Linked DNA regions of Homo sapiens: region 1 is linked to region 2. The links come from fine-mapping of genetic effects on plasma protein levels. A gene starts in region 2. The other region holds a variant in brackets. All regions are shown on one strand. Distances are from middle to middle.

Region 1 (8,000 bases), 1.3 Mb after region 2:
ATTTTGACTTAGATTTTATTCCCTTCAGAAAGCTGAGAATTCAGAACCATATTACTTTGGGTGAGGTCACCTCCACTCCTAATAAGAGCAATATGTGCTGAGTAGTCCCGGTGTGCATGATCTGTGCTGTTATGACTCACAAGTCCCACTAGAAGTTTCAGGTACAGGAAAGGAATTTCCTCCAAATAAGGAAAACGTTGTGCACCTGTGTTGTATACTGTTTGTGAAAAGCAAGAGGATGTAGTATTGGAAAGGTGTAAAGCTTATGCTTTAGTTGGCTAGAACAAAGTTCATATTTTTTCTCAGTTATCAGGGGTCGTGAAAGTCATTAAATCCAACTTCTATCCAGTGTTAGGGAATCTGAGAGGTAATTCTCAAACTTTTGCCTAAGTGTGATCCACATAATTTTAGTAATAAGCTTATTTCCTATTTCATTGTCTCACCTGAGAACTTTCTAACTGAGGTGGAAGCAATAAATATTATTTGTTAATAGCTCTCTCCTCCTCCATGTCCCTTGCCTTCCTACTATTAATACTACCACTATTGCTGCTACTGTTCTGCTCCTACTCCTAATACATATTTAACTAATATAACATGTACTCTACCAGACAAAACGTTGGGATAATTTACATATCAGCTAAAGCTGTAGAGGCTTCATTTTGACTTAGAGTTTGTTGCCTCCAACACTCTTAACATTGTGAACCAGGTTATCTTGTGTACAGTCCACCCTGCTTTTAGTAATACCCCAATGTGCTATTTATTCTGCATTCATCATCTCATTTACTCTTCACCACAGATCTGTAAGGTATGTGTGAGCCTTATTCACATTTTATAAAGTAGAGGACCGAGATTTAGAAAGGTTAAGAATGTTATCAAGGTCATTAGGATTTTAAATTTAGGCTGCCTGGCTATAAAGTCCACGCTTGTAACCACCCTGCAGTACCCTCCTTTCATTGTTTTTATTTATTTTTAAATTCTTACTCTGATATTGAGATTCTCACCTGTGGTATAAAAAAGATCCTGTTGTAGCGGTGGAATTAATAATTAAATACACCCACCTGTAAATGCTTGTTAAATCACCAGAATTAAAATAGAATATCCATGAAATGTTCTAGATGTTCAAATTGCTCTTGTCACTGTGCACACCAAGATTTAAAACCTAGGGCCTCGTAAGTATTCAGACAATTGTCTTGGAAGATCTTGTGTTTTCTCTATTTGCTACTGTGTGTTAATTCTATACCATGCTAGGATACAGGGGCCCTATGCCATCTTTCACCTTCTTAGTAGAATGTTTGATCTAAATAGCAATTTGGCTTGCCCTGGACAATGTTGTGCTTCCCCTAACCAAAGAAACATGGTTCTCTGGAAGATTATAGTACCACATTGGTCAGCAGTTTCAAGTATTTGGCATTGAAGACATTGTAAAGCGAATTATAAATAATTTTATCCTGAATTATCTATATCATAGGCACATTGTGACATTGTTTAGTTTGCACCATTGTTCCTGTTGTTGGGGCTATTGTTGATATTATTTTGGCAGACTGTGCTATGTTCAAATTAAGACTCTCTCTGGAACTCTCAGTTATAAGGTTATTATTATTGCCGTACTATTTACAAAAGAGTTGCCAAGACTGGTGCACTGGAAGCTGTGTTCCACTTATCAATTCAAAGGAATTTTAGTATCGTTTCTACCATCAGGGAATCTGTGAGCTGAGCTAGATAGAATCAGAGAGATTATCTAGAGATTATTTTATTGATCACCAAATGCATTTTTGTAAAAGTAAAGACCCCAAATTGAAGCTCTTCAAACAGTCAGTTGGTGTTACTAAAATGGCTTATAGTTACAGTTATCAGTCTCTTGAGTAAGCAAAATGTTATCTCAAAGCCAAAACAATTTTGTGGTATGGAGAGAGATTATTAAGTAGTTGAAATATTGTTGCTGAAAATATGGATTTAAAAGCATCAATACCAAGTGCCATGGAATTTCCAAATGACAACTTGATATTGATACAATAAAACAGAAAAAGCCATTAATAATTGAAAGCAATAAAAACATATGCCTTGAATAAAAACAACTTGAAGCCCGTAAATAATACAACATGGCTATTCAGTGATCATTCTGTAATATTAAAGTTTCAAAAGGCATCCTAACGTGTTGGATTTTTTGTTTGTTTCACATTTCCTGATCCAGATTTATATTTTTGAAAATAATATCTACTATCAACCTGATATAAAGAGCAGTTCATTGCGACTGACATCTTCTGGAAAAGAAGAAATAATTTTTAATGGGATTGCTGACTGGTTATATGAAGGTGAGTTGATCAGATTTAGTTTCAAAGGAAACAAATGACATATTTTTATACAAAATCTACCAAAAAAAATCTATTCATTCCGGAGCAATACTTACAGTACAGTTTCTTCTCATTTTCTCTCAAAATTGCCCTCATGCTTTCATATCTTTGCATGTGCTTATATTTTGTGTGGTTGAGATTTACATCTACTTACATGATTCCATGTTTGGTGTATATATGTACATATAGGCTAGATAGATATTATTTGTGAGGACAACTAATGAAAGTAAATGGTTACCTTATGTCACTTTGGAATTAGATGCTGAATTTTTTCTGACTCTCTGGGAAAGAAGAAACAGAAACCTTTATTTCTAAAAAAAAAAAAAAAAAATGCATAAAAAGCCACCTGATTTTAGTTATTTCCATTAGGGACATTCTGTCACACTTTATAAGCTATTGCAGAGGGAGCAAAATAAAACCCACATAAAGAGTTATTTTCAATATCTATTGAATCAAGTTTTAGTAATAGCTGAGAATATAAAAATAAATCAGGTGATGAAAATTTATCCAGTTTTTATCACGTACCAATTATCAGCTGAGTTCTACATATAGATTGCCTGGGCAAGACTCAAAGTATGAGTTTATTACCTATGTTTCAGATTCTTCAGCTGATTTTGGCAAAATATGTCAAGATTTAAAGTAAGTCTACTTTATTATAAATTATAAAGCTATGAATCATTCAAAAAGTGAATTTTATTTCATGGGCAATATTTGCAAATGTAATCTCTCTACCTCAGATTTGACATTTTTAATTCTATAAGAAAAGTGAATAACTTAGACCAATTATTCATTCATTCACTCTTTCACTCAAATGATATCATTGAAGGCCTACTGTATTCTGGATAGATGTCTAGGTGCCAGGATAAAAGACGGAGCAAAAAGTACTGCTCTAATAAACCGTATATTTACGTGAAATATTTTGTTAGGTGGAGCTATTTTATTAAAGAAGAGATGTTGTAACCCTTGAGATTTATATGTATATGTGTACATGTATATTTATATCTATAATAGATTTCTGTGTACATGCCAGCATGAAATAAGATTTTTAGAGGCTACAATTTATTGTGAAGAGCAGTGAGAGCTTCCCCGAAAATATTAACAATAAGTATGCTGTGAAAGTATATATTAGAAAAAGAAATACACAGGTAAGGAGTGTTCATTGGTTGAGAGTTACAGAATCTAAATCTGGCTTTTCTATTTCAAAGAGATA[C/A]ATTACTGGAGGGGACTGGGATGGCCCTCAGAATTTAATAAACAGGTGGACAACACATTTAAAATCTGGTTAGTTCTGGCAGTCTAGGTAGCAGGAGCTAATTGAAGTGCAGAGACTAAGACGTGCCCTTTTTCTTCAAAATATTATTGGTACTGTGTGACACCCTGACAGATGAAGAAACCATGTTAATGCAGTGTGGTAAGTAGTTGAATCTTAATCAACACAGAATTCTATGGAAGAACAAAGGAATGATACCATTCTAGGGATTTGCAAGCATTTTTTCTAAAGGAGAAACCCTGGCCAACAACAGTAGCTCAAGCCTGTAATCTCAGAGCTGTGGGAGGCCAAGGTGGGAGAATTATCCAAAGCCAGGAGTTCCATACCAGCCTAGACAAAATAGCAAGGTTTTCATTTCTACTAAAAAATTTTTAAAAATTAGCCAGATGTGATGGCATGCACCTGTGTTCCCAGCTGAAGTGAGAGGATTGTTAATGAGAGAGGATTGCTTGAGCTCGGGAGTTGAAGACTGCAATGAGCTATGATCCAGGCCCCTGAACTCCAGCTTAGGCAACAGAGTGAGATCCTTACCTCTTAAAACAAGGGAGAGAGAGAAAAAGAGAGAGAGAGAGAAGAGAGAGAGAGCATCTGAGTCAAGCCTGAACAGTTAACAAGTGTTACGCATGAGAAGAAATTAGGAAGGAAAAATCTAAGCAGATGTAACAATTTGCAAAAACCCACAAGTGTGTCCCTAGGGAACCAAAGTCTCCTTGATATAATTGGGCCATAAAATTTGAGACAAAGGAAGGTAGCAAGAAGCGAGGGATAGTGACCTCTATCAATGATTTGGAATTTCAATTATTTTCCTACCATTTAATAGGAAAACTAATAGAAGTTTTCAAGTAAGGGAGTGACAAGATTGGATCTTCCATATGAACAGATTGTTTTTGTGACAGCAGGAACCTGGGGTCTAAGAGTGGAAAGAAACGGTGAGCGGCTGTAAGGCTTCTTCTATGTTCTATCAAGAGATAATGAGCAATGGAACTAGGGTTAAAGCAGTAAAAAGGAGGAAAGACTCTAAAATTGATGAGACAATGAAATATATAGGTCTTAGTGGCTAAGCAGATGGGGTGAATGATAAGAAGTCAAGGATGATTCTGTGTCTTCTGGTTTGGGTCACTAGTAAGTAGTGGTGGCAGACATAGTGAGCAAGCATTAACAAGGAGCAGTGGGTTTCAGGGAAGAGAAGACTAGATTAGCAGCAATGCGGGCATTGAACCACGTACTGACGTGCTCCCTTGGTGATAAAAGGTGGTCTGTAACGTCGATGAAGTTTTCAGTCAACTGAGGGTATACTCAATGTAGACCATGCTTATTGTGCTGCTCCGTCCCGAATTAAGATGACTTGGGTCTCTGTCCTATTGAAAAGGCTTCATACATTTATAAGGAAATTTTAAGGAGAGAAATTAGAGACCGTTTCCTGACAAATACGGTAATTTTCTTAACTAAAGAATAAAAATCTATGTATTCGGTCTGAGAGTAAACTGTTTGTAGGGGTTGTGGAGAGCAGAACAAACGGGTAATACAAACTTTTGTGATGATGCTGTAGGTCTGACGCATTCCAAAGGGGAAAGGAAAAAGTATAGTTTTTGCCATACTTTGGGCTCCTATGTTGCCGTTAACTAGGAAATGCTGTACGTGTATGTGATTTAATCATCAAAATGTTTGTGCATCTAATCATTTATGAAGAAACTAAGACGCACCCAGTGCTGTGGCTCATGCCAGCAATCCTAGCACTTTGAGGGGGCGAGGTGGGCAGATCACTTGAGCCCAGGATTTCAAGACCAGCCTGGGCAATATGGCAAAATCCTGTCTCTACTAAAAATACAAAAAAAGGCTGGGTGTGGTGGCTCATACCTGTAATCCCAGCATTTTGGGAGGCCAAGGCCGGTGGATCATGAGGTCAGGAGATTGAGACCATCCTGGCCAACATGGTGAAACCCCGTCTCTACTAAAAATACAAAAATTAGCTGGGCATGCTGGTGCGTACCTGTAATCCCAGCTACTCGGGAGGCTGAGGCAGGAAAATCGCTTGAACCAGGGAGTTGGAGGTTGCAGAGCCAAGATCATGCCACTGCACTCCAGCCTGGTGACAGAGCAAGACTCTGTCTCAAAAAAAAAAAAAATTTAACTGGGTGGGGTGGTGGGGTAGCACATACCTGTGTTCCCCCCTACTCTGGAAGCTGAGGTGGGAGGATCACCTAAGCCAGGAAGTTGAGGCTGCAGTGAGCCAAGATCATGCCACTGCACTCCAGCCTGGGCAACAGAAGCGAGACCCTGTCTCAAAAGAAAAAATTTAAAAAAGAAACCAAGACTCAGAGAGGATCAGTGATTTAGACATGGCCTCAGAGCTAATGAGTGGGAGAGCCAACATTTGAATGTGTGTCTTTTGTTCCTAAAGCCAGGGCTTAGTCACTAGTCTACTCTACTTGTTATAGGGGGATGTCCTTCACTGTTCCCCAAGACACAACACACGTTTTGGGACCTAAATTGTCAGACTTCAGTGATCTGTTTCCTCAGCCAAAGACTCATCCTACTGTCCATGGACTTACTCTAATCCTCACTGCATTTCCAGGAGGAACCCTACCCATGACTTCAATGTTAAGGTTTGGCAGAGGGATGTAAGCTATTCAGATGTTTTTGATTTTCCCTCACTATTTTGACTGCTACCCCCAACCTCTGCTTCAAGAGTCCTACATGCACCTTACCCTCCCACTATCACCTTGCTTGTGGAATGTGCCAGGAGCTCCCAAGCTCCAGACCTTTTTTTTCCCCTTTAATGCACTCACTGAAACACAATGATATTGCCTAGGGAATGCATGTAATTTCAACGTTATGTGTGTGATACTCTGGTGTGGAGATTTCCTTTTTATTACTTTACAGGAGTCAATTACAATCTAAATTAGCATGTATGGGAGACACAGAAAGTAACATGTAACATTTCAACTTTTTTAAAATTGAAATTTACCTTTTGTAAATGTCATAGAAAAAAAAGATGAGAGAAAGAGTGACATAAAAGACAATAAAATATTTTTACAGTAAGCTTTACAGGCATGTCTTAATCTTTTAAGACCAGGCCAATCTGTAAGAGTGGCTGCTGCCCCCAACTAGTCACTAAATAGAGTCCTTAAAAGTGTCAGTTTTAAGAATCTTTGTCTCTATTTTTAGTATTGTTTAGTTCCTAAAGAAAGTAAAGCAATATAAAGTATAATGCATTTTAAACAGCGAAGTCAGAAAAATAAGAAAATGCTCAAAAAGGAAGATTATTTAAAATGTAATTCGCACAAAACACGTATAATGTTATTCACTTAAATTGCTGTATTTAACCTAGCAATGTAATTAAATACGATATCAGATCAAAGTTTTACTTTAAAAACTTTTAAAATGTTACTAAAAAGAAAGTTTACAGCTACCCACTTCACAGCTTTGAAAATTTCCATAAAGCATTTAATCTATTAAATAGGAAAAAAAATGACTCACTTTCAAATATTTAAGCATATAGAATAATGGAACTAATATGCTTAAGTGATTTACAGATATATTTTAGAACCTTGTATATTTAAGGGATTATTCCTTAAAGTTTAATCCAACAGCTGTGGAGCAAATATACCTGCCAGGCATTATCTAAGAGCAATACGATGAGAAATACGGGTTTCCATGTCTTGGGTATTTCCAACTTAGTGTAGTGATAAACAATAAACAACTATTGTATTGGGAACCATTTGGAGCATAGTAAATATAAATATAAATAGGATTTATTTCACATACTAAATAGAATTATAAGTAGAACTAAGTTTGATAGGATGGAGGAATGTCAGGTGCTTCATAGATGACATGGGCCTTGTGTTGGTATTCAAGAATGACAAGAATGAAAAGGTGCGGAAAAATTCACGAGATAAGCAATATTCTTATCAGCAGATTCTGATTGTTACACTTTTTTTGTTGAAATAAAACAGGGCAAAATGCCTATTTTCACCTTCATGTTTGTTTCACATTAATGTTTCACATTAATGTCTTTTGGCGACATGAAATTGCATTCATTTCATCATTGATTCAACAAATATTTATTGAGCACTTGCTCAGTGTCATCTATGGGGCTGCAGCATGGGAGTCACAGGAAGGCAGGGTTATCAGTAGTGCTGAGTCTCCAGAGGTCAAACAAGGGAAGGATTCCAAAGCTTTTGTTGGATTTGCTCATAGATCATCGATGGCCTTGACAGGAGTAAAATCAGTTAATTGGTGGGGCCAAATCCAAGACTGCAGTGGATGGACATGTAAATGGGGAGTGAGAAAGTTATGAATAGAGACTATTCTTTCAAGGAATTTGACAGTGAAATGCAGAAAATTGAAAAAAAAAAAAAAATCAACCACAGGCCTGCAGA
Region 2 (10,058 bases):
AGATGGGCATTGAATAATATGTAGTAATTGGGGATGGCAGGAAGGGAATAAAATGAGCACTTTCCTAACCTTATTTTGTTTTCCAGGAGGTCAAAGTCAATTCTTTTAGCTTTGATTTTAAAGCCTTCTTTGAATGAGGCAATGAAGAGGCTGGAAGAGATATTTTGAATTTGGGTACTTTACTTGCCTTTTCCAAAGACTACAAACATTTAATTTGCTTTAAGACTGCTCCTTGAATTTTTATTCCAGAAGACTTGCCTTATGACCATAATTTTGTAAGATAGAACAAAATTTCCAAACCAGCACTTTGTTCTCTTATATAATGTACAAAATGCTGAAGTTACAAACCACACCTGCCATGGCACCTCCTTAATGCTGCCAAGGTAGCAGTCAGCCTCTGAGTTGGGCACTATCTGCAGTTGAAGACTGTTTACCACAGGGAAAGGAAGGGAACTGAGTCCTGGCAAACACTGGTTCTGCATTCCACTGCTTTGGAGATGTGGGATGCACAGTAGAATCCAGGACTGAATGACTGCCAAAGCTCCCTAAAAATTATAATGATTGTTTTATTGGGCTCATCAATTATCTACCTTACATGTGAACTCCTTTTCAGGTCATAAATGTTGCGACAACACTCAGAACAGGAAGAAATGAAAGCAGGAGAAATGGGCAATCAGGGAGCAATGGTCAAAATTCCTAATAGGCAGATCTTGGGACCTTAGAATAGTATAGGCTGGCTTGGGGGACTGCTGTCACTAATAGCTGAACTAGATGAAGTAGTCTGTCCCTGATGTCTGGGGAACTATAGTGCAATGGATTTTATGTGTGCATTCTGTCTTCACAGTGATTTATGACTTTGGCCATAGAGAAAATTTATTGAAGGCATTTGTCAGGGATTGTGGAGCAGATTGTTATGCTTACATAAAGAGTTACCTCCAGTGTTTATTTCTGTGTGTTCATGAAAGCATCTGTATCTAGAACTGAACATTTCTAAGGCACTTTTGGGGGTCTTGTTTGCTGAGTTATTTGCAACTGGAGAACTGAGGGTGAGGAAAGCTCCAAAAATCCCTTATGAGGAAATCATGGCTATCTATTTTAGTGTTTTATAAATTTAGGATTTGGATCACATTTTCAGCTGGAAGTTTTTGCAGAAGAGAATTATTCCAGAAAACATAAATGTCACCATTAGAACTGTGTAAGACAATGACAGTAGCAGAGATAATGTTTTGCTTTTTTATGGATGTGGAACTCCACTTGGGGCAACTGATAATTTTTGAGATGTTTGTGTTTGGTTCTGGTTAGCAAGCAGCAGGGAGTGGAACCTGTCAGGAATGTCAGTCAACTGGATCTGTGACAGTCGGTCACCCTGAGGTTGGTCTGCATCATACAGACTATATATCCAGTGTACTTGGAAGCAGGCAGCCTCCAGGATAAGAGCAAATTATAGTCAAGGATCAGCTAAGAGGACAGTTTGAAAAGTTTGTGGTGATGATCAAGAGATGAATAGTGGAAAAATCAGGAAGCCAAATCCAGTAACGGGAGATGCAAAGAGGGGCAATTCACACTTGTCAATGAGTGTAGGTCAGTTCTTATTGGATACGGGAATGGCAGCCAGCTCTAAAGCTGGACTGGCATAGGCTAGTCAATAACTTCACTTATTTGTTGATTCTAATCCCTGCTCTCACGTTCTATGTGGTTTTAGGCAATACCTCATGAGAGAAAGAGTACAATAAACTACTTCATTAATTAATTTGGACGATAAATTGAAAATGTAGAGCGAGCACTTCCCACTTTCTATGTGTTTGTGTGTTTGGTTGGAATATTATGGGACATAAGTCTGGAGAGGTGGCTTTCAGACAGTGAATCACACAGTAGTTGATCATCTAATGTAAAAGCGAGTTTAGAAATTTGTGTTCTTTTTCTCATTAAACTTACATTTTATTGCTACTTGAGAATTCATAATACTATATTTGCTTTTTTTTCAGAAAGTCCTTCAAGTGATTACTACTGAAAGAATAAGAAAATGTGAGTTTTACTTTTTGTTGTATTAGTACAGTTACAACGGTTAGTAGGATAAAATAACTTTTTTTATTCGTATAGCAGAATAGTTAAAAGTATGCACTCTTATGTAGTCAGGCCTGCCTGCTCTGCCTCCTACCAATGGCTCTGGCCTTTGCAGAGCTATATGTGCCCAGCAGGGGAAATCCTCATAGCTCACATTCAACTCTGGTATTTCCCCATATGCAAGTGTTATTATGGGTCTGTATCCTACTCCTGAATAACTCAGGAAAAGATATTAGGAAAGCCCTGTTGATAACAAGACACATAGGATAAAGAAGTTCTGTCTTATATTTACCTGAAGTAGCTTTGAAATTAACTTGTCACAGTCTATGGACCATTAAATATAAGCATGTTGGCATCTTAAGGTTGGATGGCAGAGATAGGCATATATCTCTGCATATGAAAAATAAGCAGCAGTAGGGTTATGGCTATCATTAGGGTTACTCAGAATGCTATTCTGATTTTACTGCTACTTGGGTGCATGCTGCACGTCACTTTCTTGTTACCTAAACTTGAATGTAGCCATGAGAGTGGCTTTAGCCAATGGAATGTAAGTAGAAGTGTTTTGTGTCTTTGCTGGGCATAAGCCTTTAAATAAGAGCATGATTTTTCATGTTTCTTTCCTTCTGCCTTGTTGATTGTGAAAGCTTGTATTAAGATGGGGCCTTTATCAGCCTGGATCCCTAAGATTGAAAGAGCCTCACGTGCTCTTCCTCCCGTGCCAACCAGGTATTGGCATGCTGTATAATGAGAAAGAAACCTTCATTATTTTAAACCACTGGGATTTAGAGATTACTTATAAATGTATTTATTTATTTATTTTTATTTTTTGAGATAGAGTCTCCCTCTGTCATTCAGGCTGTAGTGCAGTGGCACAATCTCAGCTCACTGCAACCTCCGCCTCTGGGGTTCAAGCAACTCTCATGCCTCAGCCTCCCGAATAGCTGGGATTACAGGTGTGCACCACCATGCCAGGCTAATTTTTGTATTTTTTTGTAGAGATGGGGTTTGCCATGTTGCCCAGGCTGTTCTCAGACTCCTGGCCTCAAGTGACCCACTTGTCTCAGCCTCTCAAAATGCTGGGATTATCAGTGTAGGCCACTGCACCCGACCTTGGAGGTTATTTGTTATTGAACCATAACTTTGCCTATCCTGACTCTGCAAGTGGTTTCCAGAAAAGATCAATTCTTGAAGACCATGAAGCCACAATTAGACCAGAGACTTCCACTTGAGTGAATCCCGGGAACAATCTGAAGCATAGAAGGTGTTACAAGCAGGGGTCAATCATGAAGAAAGATGTGGCAGGCAGGAGTTAGGTGAGGGTCAAGTCAAAAAAGCCAACCATTAGAAACCATATTCCAGTTCTAGTAGGAAATGCAAATGACTCAGTGGATGGGTCATGAGAAGACCAGAACACAGATGATAGGTGTTAAGATGAGGAGATGATCCCTCAATGGTCATGGAGGGATTTGAATTTTCTACAGTAGATTTCAAAAAAATCAGGGAAACAGCCCAATATCCTTTCAGATACCATTCTTATTGACTAGAGGCCTGGGCTTGCCTAACTTTGCAATCTGTAGGTCATCACTGTGACCAGCTAGTTAGGGCTTGGGCAGATGGGACTTGAAACAAAGAGACGGAAATTGGTAGTAGAATCCATCTGACACTTTGACTTTTTTTTTTTTCTAATGGGATATTTTCATTAACCCCATCCTAAATTTCTATTTCCCGGATCAAATGATAGCTGGTCAAGGAACATCGTGGGTTATATTTTCTGAAAGCGTTAGCCATCTTAATTTTTTTTGTGGGAAAGGTGGAAGGGACTCACTCCTAACTTTTCCCAAACTGTTTGACAACAACATATTTTTATACGGTTATCATAAGTGTTGATTACATTTGAAATTGGTCCTTTGGACTAAATTGTCTAAATTTTCTAGTTCAGTATGATTTACTGTATAGTGTTTCTTCAGCAGATCTAAACCTTAAAAAAAACTACTTCCATGTGACAAACCGTGATGCAATTTTGCAGCTGTTTTCATTCTAAACATATTGAGCCCAATATATCCCAATTAGAAGAAATGTATATGAATTATCCTTATTAAGCGGTATTTGTAATTCTCTAGCACTTGTCTAAATTTCTTTGGTCTCTATTTTCTTCTAGTTGTACATTCCAATTGGCTACATTAAGATACAGCAGATTTTACAAAATAATGAACAATTTATACATGTTTTAAATAGAAATGTTTAAAAATTACTATGGTTTTCATTTCCTTGATTCATGAAATGATAATATAACAGAAAGGGAAAACAAAATCCAAAATGAGATTTGGGTCATATGTTTTGCTCTGAACACTTGATTTTTCTTTGGAACTTGGAGTTTGATATAATGTGGAGCCTGGAAAGGGAGCATATGGTGTATACGAGGCACTCTTTTCTCTTACTGTGATTTTTCTCTATTTTCAAAATGCAACTTTGGGAAAAGATTTTAGGTGGATTCTGGCCACCTACCTATAAATGGTAGTGTCAATATCTTTCTTGGATCCTGCTGCCATCCAGGTGGGGGTAGAACCTTTTTGAAAAATTGTAGAAAAGGGGTGAAGTCTCATGTGATTATAGTTGTAGAAATCCAGCAACTCATACCCTCTTTGTGGTAGGCATATAAATGCTGTCTCTATCAATGTGCCTGGAGAGGGTTCCTTGAAGTACTAGTGGCTCCTTCCATCCTGTACAGTTCTTTGATGGGGATGGGATACTCTGAACTCTTGGACTGCTCTCCCTCCCTGGGCTCCCCAGATAATTTAGTTTGGAAGTTTCTTAGATACCTAGTACAAAGTGCTATCTAAGAAAGGAATTAAGCCAATTCTACTGGTATAGAACATTCATTTATTCAGAGATTATCAAACTGTAAACCACCTGATGAAATGTTCATAGGTTTTTTCATTGAGTATTTTGTATGTTTTTTACTTCATTACTTTCTTCTCTTCTCTTTATTGTTTCCCCCCTATAATTTATTTGAGTTTATTTTGCCATTCTTTTTCCAACTCTTTGATATGAATAATTAGCTTATTAATTATTAATTTTATGCTTTTCTGCATTTCTGGTATAGGTACTTAATTATATACATTTTCCTTTAAATATTGATTTAGCTGCATACTGCAAATTTTCTGTGTTGTTTTCATTATTGTTGAATACAAAATGTTTAAACATTTTTAATATACTCTTTTTGTGATTTATGAATTATTCAAAGCAATGCTATTCAAGCAAAATACAAGATAAGCCACAAATTCCAGTCACATTTGTGATTTAGAATTGTAAACTTCAAATCATGAGATTTGTTGGCCCTATGGCTGCCTCTGGTTGTGCTCAATATGATGCCTGGATATTGCTACACCAGATTCTTGCACACAGCCTTTTGCCTGGTTCTTATTGGCTCCATCTCTTTTCCCATGATTCTCCTGATTTCTCCAATACTCTTGCCATTAACTTTTGTGGCTGCAAACAGTCTGATCTTACTTCTGTCACATCCTTACCTCCACTTTGCTACTCAGAACTATAACCTTCTGAAACTTAGCCATCCTCAAACATGTGCAGACTACTTTGTCAGAATGTTTAGATCCCTTTTCTGTTTTACAAGAGAAAATATGTGTTTATAATTATGTATAAATTAATTTCACCAAACATTAATTTATTTCATTTCACATTAAAGTTTATCTGTAATATTTTAGGCTGTTCATAAAAGCCTCCTGAATGTAGTTCGTTAGTTCAATCTTATAAACCTAGCATTTCATTAGTAGGATACATTTCTGATGAATAAATACTGTTGGTTTTCAACATCAAACACTTTGCAACAAAAGTTGGAAAAGAGTGTCCTGCATTTACTCAAGACTACTGGATCTTATTTCCAACCAGGATATATTTATTCTAGTTAGTGTTGATGTGACAATGGGGACTGGTGACTCGGAAAACTTAATTTACAAATATTTATAATTTATTTTGCCTAAAATGACATTAGGGACAGAGAGGTGACCATTTGGGGAGTTAGACTGGCATGAGCTAACTACCAGTTTGTCCCAGGCATTCAAAAAATACGGCTTCAAGGAAAGCAATGGTCAAAAATAAAGGTTGAAAATAAAAACATTGTCTAGCTTTGGTGCGATATCCAAAAACTACAATAACTATTGTATTTGAAAACTTTTTAAATATACCTTAAGCTTTCTGCCACCTTACAGAAAGGACAGTCTCTTGGCTGGCTGTTATGGCTAAATTTTAAAAATATCCATAGGGAATATCAGTCCTTCAACCTATAGATATAAAACCCCCAAATTCTGAAACTGCCAACAGTCTTTTTTTTTTTTTTTCCACAGCATTTACTTGTGTTTTGATTGCAAGAAGTACCCAGGAAGGAATAAAATTTAGTAACAGAATGAGGATGTTATGATTTTTTTTTAAACTGGGTTAGGGGTGGGGAGAGGGAGAGAGAGAGAGAGAAATATTTTGCACTGGAAAAACTATAATCTGGAGAGACAGAGGAGTTGAGAGTGCCCCTTTAAACTGCAGGACTGCAATTGATCTCTGTATGTTTTCTGGTTTTCGTCCCTTTGAAAGGGGAATGAGAGCCAGGATCATTGGCTGTACTGTGGAGCTGTCACATCTCCATACTGAAAAGGTACACTGCAAGTGAATTTAAACCGTTTTTGGCTTTCTATTGCATATTGCCAAGAGCTTTGAGACTGATGAACCAAGTAAATGCTCTATTTAGGGCTAAGTGAGATACAGATTCCTCCAATCTGATAGCGTTTCAGCCTCCGGAGTGAGGAAGCAGCAGAAACAGAAGCAGCAGAAGCAACAGCAGTAGCAGCGGCAGCAGCAACAGCAGCAGCCCCTACTGAAGTCCAATAGAGGAGACTTGATCTCTAGTTCATTCTGGAACTCCGCCTGGGATTGTGCACTGTCCAGGGTCCTGAAACATGAACCAAACTGCCAGCGTGTCCCATCACATCAAGTGTCAACCCTCAAAAACAATCAAGGTAGGATCTGGTTTTTCCCTCTGCTTCTGCACATGTGTCTTCATTCATCTACCTAACACATGGGCATTGATATATCGGGGTACTGACAGTGGACATACCTACTTGATTTGAGTTTGAATTGAAGGTTGAGTCACAATAAAGCATTTGGCTCTGCATGTGTGTGTAGACTGGAAAGAATAGTTTCCACTGAACACTTCTTTCATCTTCATGACTTTTTTTTTTTTTACTGAGAATCTATCAGAGGTATATTTCCAGAAGAAAGTTTTGTGAGTGTCTAGAAGAGTTTCCAGTCCATGCCAATTTTCTTGATAGAACTGGGGAAGAATTTGCAAACTGCTAGAAATAAATAGCATCAAATTGACTACAAATCTGATAACAGGATTTCATTGTCATATGAATTTTGGATCTCTTATCCTTTTTTAAAAAAAGCTCATCCTTCATTGTGAGCATTGAACTGGTGGTTATACTAAAGTGATTATAGTGAGAGAGGATGAAAGACTAGAGAGAGAGTATAAAATCACATGTCTTTATTTATATCACCATGTAACTCAAAACCAGTGAGATGATTGGAGACACTCTTCAATGCAGGTGTTGTTTAAAATTTGAGGCTTTTCTGACAGCACATGGTTAAAGGTAAAGAACAAACTCACAATTTCACTCTTCTGTTTTAGTTTCAAGTCATGCTTATACCATTCTCTTTGTTTTTATTCGGGATGCTCTTATTTCCAAGAAGGCTTATAAACGACCAGACTTCCAATCAAAGTTTACTATATTTTGCCATTTACTTGAATTGTATTATTATCTATGTGGATATTTTGCATCTTGAGGGAAAGTGATGGATTCGTCTGAAACTCTTTTATGAAAAAAAAAAAAAAACTAAAACAAAAAACGTGATATCCTGACAGGGCATCTTTAGTTACTGCAATCTCTCATTAACATACAAGTGCATACCTTTTGCTACTATTCCTGATAAGCCTGACTTTTTATGATTTATATTATGTTTTGGTTTATGTCTCAGGCCTTTAATAATATTGCATAGACTGTAATTACAAAAGGAATATAATTTTCAACAATGTCTCTTCTTCATGAATTTACCTACCGTTTGCCAGAGTGTTTCAGTGATAGATAAACCATAAACTAAACATGTTCCTCTATTTATTAGCAGTGACTTTTAAAAGCAATGGGGTTTCCAGGGTATATTAAATGATGCATAATTAGATTCCCATCATACATAAACATAGGGAGTTAACTGAAATCATGCAGAACTCATATTCAGATAATTTACACCACCTCTAATAACAGATATGAGAATCTTTTTCAGCATTAGATTTTCTGTGCTGTATCTAAGTTTAGAAATAAAAAATGTTGAGCTTTTGGTATAGTTTTCCTCTGTGTATCAGTTTCCCACATACATCAATTATCTAAGCATATCACTGAACAAAGCCAAAATAGTAAATACATGACACTCTACATTGGGATATATAAGCTCTAGTGGGAAATATGTATTGAAGCCTAAAGTGGGATAGAGTTACAAACTGGCTGCCTACTGCTAAGTATGTCTAGAATGCTATAACAAAACCAGTGGCTTTCTGTTTAAGAGTCTGAGGTCACAGGAATCAAGCATTTATTTTCCCTTTTCTTTATTGAGTAAGCATAAATGACTACTACTTTCAGAGACTTCAAATCACTTCCTTTATTAGTGCTCTGGCATTGGCTGCCCACAAACAAACTGTGGAACAGAAAAAAAAATGTTTCTAGTGTAGAGGTTTTACATCATCTTGCTGATCTTGCAGATGCTGTTTTTTCCTTCTAACTGCAGCCATTGAGTTGAAATGAAAAGTATCATAAAAATTGGACAACCCACCACTTAACAATGTATTATATTAATGGCTTAATGAAGGAATCTTGAATCAAAGCTCTGGGTAATTTGGTTAATTGTACAAGTTAAATTCTTTTGTGCACCCCATTCCCAATATTGCTCTGGGGAGCAAAAAAATGCTTGTGATGTTCATAAAATATATATAGTCGCAAGCACTGAACTATTAAGGGAGTAATTACTTGAGTATTTTGCAATTTGCAATAGTGAAAAGGGATGAGTGGAAAATCTCTCTTAGTTCAAATTATGTGCTCAATTATGAAACATTTATGGCTTTTTGAATTTATACTAAAAATGGCTATCTATATTTAGGTAATGCATTAGCCTATGAACAAAATGCAATAACAATCTAAAGAAAAACTCTAAGATGAGAGGGTTTTGGGAAGCTGTGGGACATTGGAGCTCAAAATACTCTTTGAACTATTAGAATTTTAGTTTCAAGCATGGTTGTTTAAAGTTAATTTTATTCCTCACTCTTAAATTTACTATCAATTTACTATCAGATAATTTTAAGTAACCCTCCCTCATGGAATCTGGTTGGCCTGCAGGTAATGATAACCCACTTTGAGGATCTGGAAATAAATAACTTGCATATTGCTCCATTTTAGAAATTCAAAAACCTCTAGAGACTTTTCTCCCAAAGCTCAGTGTAATAACCTCTAGAGAACTTTTCCCCCATCAGTATAGTAAATGCTGACTGTTTCTTCTCTCAACAGTTAAACTACGGCTAAAAAGAATGCAATGGGAATGAACAAAAGTGAAATGCATTGCTAAAATAGCTGTAAAGGCCAAAAGTGTGCAGGAGGAGGAAAAACAGCTCTGTGTGTGTGTGTGTGTGTGTGTGTGTGTGTGTGTGTGTGTGTGTGTTCTCCTCCACTTGAAGTTCAAGAAGTGATGAAGTCTATAGTGGGTAAAATTCAGCAATTGTTGCCAGTGAAGGCTGTTTGTGGCCATGATGTGTCAGAGTTGGAAAAGAGGAAATTGGGAGAAGTTATAATGGAACAAGATGATCAAGAGTATTCAGGTTGCTTGACACTTGCTTTGGTCGTTCTGGCCATTCTTTAGCTCAGACAGTTACTGACACACTTTTCCTG

Which allele goes with the higher level. Alleles are on the strand shown, and positions count from the first base shown. The strength of an association depends on the size of the effect and on how common the allele is.
For the plasma level of the protein whose gene starts at base 6,891 in region 2, A is the high allele of the variant in region 1 and C is the other (moderate association).

What was found. A credible set is the group of variants that fine-mapping cannot tell apart. PIP is the posterior inclusion probability: the model's chance that the variant is causal. Protein levels are from antibody-based Olink assays in UK Biobank. Linkage for the fine-mapping came from a reference panel and not from the study's own genotypes, which makes the PIPs less certain.
Region 1: its variant is the best candidate, but not a certain one, in a credible set for the plasma level of the DPP10 protein (UK Biobank, PIP 0.51).

The regions. Positions count from the first base shown.
Region 1 is chr2:115,725,625-115,733,624 of GRCh38, forward strand. It overlaps DPP10 (dipeptidyl peptidase like 10), which reads left to right. Exons shown (of 26, transcript NM_020868.6): 8 at 2,192-2,312. Among named protein-coding and RNA genes, the nearest start is that of DPP10-AS1, 570 kb to the left of the region's middle. The variant C/A (reference allele first, on the strand shown) is at 3,562.
Region 2 is chr2:114,435,751-114,445,808 of GRCh38, forward strand. It overlaps DPP10 (dipeptidyl peptidase like 10), which reads left to right and starts at 6,891. Exons shown (of 26, transcript NM_020868.6): 1 at 6,891-7,088. The coding sequence starts at 7,029.